Linked DNA regions of Homo sapiens: region 2 is linked to region 1. A link means that fine-mapping ties the variant in region 1 to the expression of a gene that starts in the linked region. Tissue or cell type: whole blood. Region 1 holds a variant in brackets; the other region holds the start of a gene. All regions are shown on one strand. Distances are between the middles of the regions. Region 1 overlaps EXOC6B (exocyst complex component 6B). Region 2 holds the start of CYP26B1 (cytochrome P450 family 26 subfamily B member 1).

Evidence for each region.
Region 2: it holds the start of CYP26B1, and the variant in region 1 is fine-mapped to the expression of CYP26B1 in whole blood (INTERVAL, PIP above 0.99).

The regions. Positions count from the first base shown.
Region 1 is chr2:72,208,708-72,211,606 of GRCh38, forward strand. The region is part of intron 20 of EXOC6B (exocyst complex component 6B); the gene reads right to left. Among named protein-coding and RNA genes, the nearest start is that of CYP26B1, 62 kb to the left of the region's middle. The variant A/G (reference allele first, on the strand shown) is at 1,665.
Region 2 is chr2:72,146,802-72,149,628 of GRCh38, forward strand. It overlaps CYP26B1 (cytochrome P450 family 26 subfamily B member 1), which reads right to left and starts at 1,061. Exons shown (of 6, transcript NM_019885.4): 1 at 830-1,061. The coding sequence starts at 1,033. RefSeq lists enhancers at 1-259, 449-950.

The sequences.
Region 1 (2,899 bases):
AGGGTACCTGCACCCTTTACCTCAAAAACACCAGTTCCAAAGAGCTCTCTTGTATTCTCTTACTAGAAATCTTCCAATGTCACTAAGCATTAAGAAACTCCTTTTCTGTGGATTTTAACCTTACAATACAGCTTTTTCTCTCTACTTTCTAGAAACTCTTACATCAAATGAATACATAGGCAAGGAGTTACAGATACAATCTTGTTACCATAAGTAGTTTGAAATATTTAATCTTGCTGGGCACGGTGGCTCATGCCTGTAATCCCAGCACTTTGGGAAGCTGAGGAGGGTGGATCACCTGAGGTCAAGAGTTCAAGACCAGCCTGACCAACATGGAGAAACCCCATCTCTACTAAAAATACAAAACTAGCCTGGTGTGTTGGCGCATGCCTGTAATCCCAGCTATTCTGGAGGCTGAGACAGGAGAATCGCTTGAACCCGGGAGGCAGAGGTTGTGGTGAGCTGAGATCGCGCCATTGCACTCCAGCCTGGGCAACAACAGCAAAACTCAGTCTCAAAAAAAAAAAAAAAAAAAAAAAAGAAAAGAAAAGAAAAGAAAAGAAAAAAGAAATATTTAATCTTACTTAGTTGTCTCTCCCTTCATTAACTGTGAGCATTTACCAGGACTGAACAAGTAAAAGTCCCTTAGCTGTTTCTATCCTGCTCCAATAAAATCTTCTTTCTTAAATTTTCAGGTTTCTGAGGCTGAGGTGGGAGGATGGCTCGAGCCCGGGAAGCAGAGATTGCAGTGAGCCAAGATTGTGCCACTGTACTCCAGCCTGGGCAACAGATCCAGACCTTGTCTCCAAAAATTTTTTTTTCAGGTTTCTAAAGAAGCAAAGCTCAGACTTCCCTAAAATTCTTTATCTTAGCACCCTCCTCTGCTAATAGGAAGTGTGAGCATCTCATTCTATTAGAAACTACATGTGTTTCAGCCAAACACCCAGTGCAGACCTATGCTTATAGCAGAAAAAAACAAATGGCTCCTTTAAAAACTGGGCTTTTGTTACATTTCTGATCACTATAGCATTTTTTGCTTAAGTAAAGGCTTACAGCTACATCAGAGAATTAGTGTTGTAACTCATCCTGCGTGTGTCAAAATCAAGGCTAGGGTGCTGAAAATACAACTGTGCATATTTGAATACACTCTTACTTACCAAGGACAATCATCAAGGCAGACTCTTTCTTAAAATTAATGGTATTTAAATTTGGTCCTCAGTGATAAGATTTTTATGTTGTTGCTTTTCACATTCAAATATGATGCACCTAATGATGCTGCTACACATGGATTATGCAGGCATAATTTTTAAAAAAGAATTATAAATACTAAGACTTTCTTTTGGTGGGTATCTGTAGCTGCCATGTGTAGGGTGTGCTGATCTTTTGGGTCCTAAACCTTTGCTTGCTCTCAGCCTCCTCCCTAGTCTCCCCTGATTTGTCTCCAAACACTGTTTTTTAGGCATCTACTCAATCAACCTTCATTGAGTATTTTCTCTGATTTACTGTCATGCAAAACGCTGTGAGGACTCTTAAGAAAGGAGAAAATACAACCTCTTCCCTCAAGGAATTTACAATTAATTAAGGAGCCAGATCCACATATTTAAGTCAATCGAAATGCATTTTTATGGACGGCATATTGCTAACTTTCCATTAATCCTAAACAA[A/G]ATGAACACGTCAATGTGAAGTACGGTAGGGATCACCACAGAAAGTTTAGAAGGAAGAGCAGCAGACAATAATATTTTGTTCATACTGGATAGCTGGATACCCATTTCCCAGCACAGTACCAGACACAACAGATACTCAATAAATGTAATGAACTGCCCCCTCTCCTGACCTGCCATCTATTTCAAAGCTAAGGGACTAGGTGTTTTCCAGGATACCTACCTTCCCCAAAGGGCCCCTGAGTCATTACAATCTCCAGAAGGTTGTACAGTTTTCTGGCAGCTATCCCAAAGGGGGCTGTGCCTCATCTTACAAGTCAGTGTGTCTACTTCTCCAGGCACAGTGCCCGTGGAAGCTTGGTTTGCACTTTGTTTTTCTTGTGGGCAGCAGCAAGGTGGGATTACAGGTCTTCAGTGGTGAGGTGGAAACTTTGGAATCCTTGCCCTTGTTTCCTCAGCAAAGCACACATACATCCCAAAAGGTCAGTCGGCTGTGGACTCTTGGATATTATGGCTGAGTTACAAGAGAACAACCCTTGTTTACAAAGGCATTTCTTCAAAATGTTTTTGCTTGGCACTTATTTTAGGGTGCTGATTAGCCTGAGTTAAATGTTATCTGTAGAAGGTGAAGCACCACCTCCGGTTCCCTCCAGGCAGCCACAGCTTTCTCCAGCTGGGGTTGATTCAGGAAAGTATTAGCAATTTTACCCTCTTCCCTCTCAACCTGAAATGCATCCTATCTTCACTAACTGCCTGGGCGCCTGCAACCTGTAAGACTCATTCCTCAGTGGACCAGTTTCCATGTGCCCTTGCAGAGACTCAGTTAGTGACGTACTGACAGGTGATCCTAGAAAGTCATATTTCTGGACACAATTTCTCCAAAAAAATGAAGTTTTTGGACTAATTGATTTCCAAGGGCCCTTTTCCAGTTCTGAAACTTACTTTCTATTAATAAATGTTCCATATTCTCCAATGAGAGACTGAGGTGAGAAAATGGGCCCTCCTCTTCTGCTAGAGCTGTACTGTCAGGCAAAGGAAAGCCTTGGGAGAAGTCTGGTATAAGCTCAGGACTAAGGCTGGGCCCTGTTTTTTCTGCACATGCACCTTTACTCACTCACCATTTAATGAATGCCTCCATGTACCCAAGACAACGTGAAGCCATAACAGAAACAAAAACTTTGTCCTTGCTTAAGATGGAACTTTATGCCACACCCACCATAAGCTGGGTTTTATGGTGA
Region 2 (2,827 bases), 62 kb before region 1:
ATGAGGTGAACTCCAGGTTAATCTCCCCATTACCTACCTGGGTCTGGTCCCTGACGCGCCTCACCCCCGTTATCACCAGCAGAGTGGGGTTGTGCGGCATCTAACAAGCACACACGCACTCTCTCTCTATGGATCCCACACTCACCTCTCCCAAGTTTCCCTCTCCTGCCAAACTGTCCCCACCCAATAAGTAAATAGACCCTTTTCCCCGAAAGCCTAGAGCCCTGGATTCTCATTTTTCCTTGGGTTACCTTCTTCCTCTTCCACCACAAAACAGACACACTCGCGCGGACCGCGGACCAGGGACACTGTACCTGGCGCTGCCGACGGCGCCGCAGGAACACAGTTTTAAATCGGCAATTCAAGCTGCCACCAGCCCCCTCCTCTCCCGACTCAATTTTCGGCTCCCAGCGACACAGCCAACCCCAGAAAGCCGAGGGCGACTGGGGGCTTGCAGCACCGAGGGGAGGCGAAAGCGGCTCAGGACCGGACCCTCCCCCGGGACCGCGCCTCGCTAGGCGCCCCCGGGGCGCTCCACGCCCCCTGCCAGGCCAGCCGCGACCCAGGCAAGTCCATCTTGGGAGCCCCCTCAGGTCCGGGAACCCCTCTTACCAGCCCCCTGAACCTGCGCCGCGGGCGCCAGTGGTCCCGGAACCGCGCTGCCGGCGGGCTGGGGAAGCCCGGGCTGCTGCGGCAGAGAGGAGGGAAGGGGCGGGGCGGGGACCAGTGCCTTCAGGCTCCCGGCGCCCCCTGGCCGGCCCGCCGCTCCGTCTGCCCCGCGCTCGCAGCTAGCGGACCCCGGAGTGCAGCGGAGCGAGCGCGCCCTTACCTGCAGCAGCCAGTGGCCGGTCTCTCCGATGAGCGGGAAGCCCATGGATCCCTTGGGGATGGGCAGCTTGCAGCTCTTGTCGCGAGTGGCGGCCCAGCGCAGCTGCCACAGCTGCTGCGACACGGCCAGCAGCAGCGTCACGGACACCAGGCACGCGGCGAGGGTGGCCAGCGCCGACACCAGATCCAAGCCCTCAAAGAGCATGTTGGCGGCCGCTCGGGGGATTGGCTGTGCCGGCCGCGGCGGGGGAGGGGAGGGCCCGACGGGAGGGGACCGGAGCGGCGGGGGAGGGGAGGCTGCGGCCGGGGGTCCTGGCACCTCCAGCCGAAACAGAGAAGGAGGAAGGGGCCAAGGGAAAGGGAGTGGAGGCTGCGAGGGGAGCGGAGAGAGGGAGGAAAAAAATTGCCTAAAAGAAGAGAGGAAACACGAGGCGACTGGGGTGCAACTTTGTTTGTTTGTTTGTTTGTTTGTTCCTTTATAGCGGGCTTAGGGGCTGCTCAAGGGGTGGTGAGATGAAGCCGTGAGTCAAGCTGGTGGGTTTGCTCTCCCCGCTACCATCACACTCGGAAAACTTTGGAAAACTTTGTCCAGAGGGAGCCTCTCTCTCGTAAGCCCCTTCCCCTGCTCGGAAAAAAAGAAGGGGGCAGAGAGCTAGCAGAGAGAAAGTGCGGTCGATTTGTCAAAAGTATTGCAGTATGGCCCCAAAATTCCTAGGTGAAAAAAAGAAAAAAAGAAAAAATTCCTGAATCCAAAAATTCCAACGAACCCAGAAACTTTGGGGGCGAGGGAGAAAGCTCCCTGGCTGAGGCGAGTGGAGAGGCCGGAGCCTAAAAGTCCCTGGGCTGCCCGGGGCGGCGCGCTCGAGCCCCAGAGCCGCCGCAGCACCCCCGAGGCAGGAGCGGCGGGCGAGGCGGCGAGGCGGGCGCTGCGGCCCGAGCGCGGGTGCGGAGCCGGCGGGCCGCGGCCGGGACGGGACGCAGCCGGCGACAGAGCCCCGGGCGGGCGATGGGGCGGCGGCGGCGGCGGCGGCGGCGGCGGCGGCGGCAGCGGGCGGGAGGGGTGAGGCGGGGTGGGGTTGGGGGAGGAGGTGGAAAACCCGAGCTGGGCTATTGTATCAATTAAGAAAAGGCAGTCCGTCCCGGGACGCGGTCTCTCGGCTCTGGAGTTGCTGCTGGGGGAAGAAATGGGGAAAAAAGAAAGGAAGGCAAAAGGAATGAAAGAGGGGGAAAAGCAGGAGGCAGGATTTCAGGGCTGGTGGTTTTAAAAGCTTCTCTCAATGTGAATTTGAGTCCAAAGCGAGGCGATGCGTGTGTTTATATAGAGGCGGGAGGCTGCGCCGTGGGCGCCCCGCCAGCACCCCCCCGCCCCAACCCGCGCGCTCACAAAGCCGGAGGCGTGGTGAGAGGCCGGGCCCGCGGCCGGAGCTGGAGAGCGCAGCCCGGCCTCCCGCCCCGCCCCGGCCGCCCGCCGCCCGCCGCCCGCAGCCCGCCCGGGACCCACTTGTAGCCGCCGCAGGATCAAACTCAGTTCACCTCTCGCCTCCTCTTCTTTCTCGCCGGCGTCTCGCTGAGCCCAGCGCCTACAGACGGACGAGATGAGACACACGCGCGCGCACCTACGCGCACACACACACAACACACACGCGCACACACACAACACACACACCTCCGCACACACGGTGCGCACTCGCTTAGTGCCTGCTTGGCTTCTAGGCTCCTTCCCTTCCTCTTTTCCTCCTTCCCAGGTCAGCGGTCCCCTCCTCCAGCTCCGAGCAGTCCCTCCTGGGCCGAAGCCCCGGCAGCGGAGGTCCTGGCCGGACTGCCCCCTCGACTGGCAGGCGCCCAAAGCCCTCGAAACTGTGCCTTAGGGTCCCGAGCTTCCAACCCCCGGGATCCCGCTGGCTCTTATCTCCAGGGACCCCTGAGTTACCAGTCCCAATCCCCCTAAGCCAGATCCCCCATTCCCGATCCCTATATCCTCACACCTCCGATGCTAAGG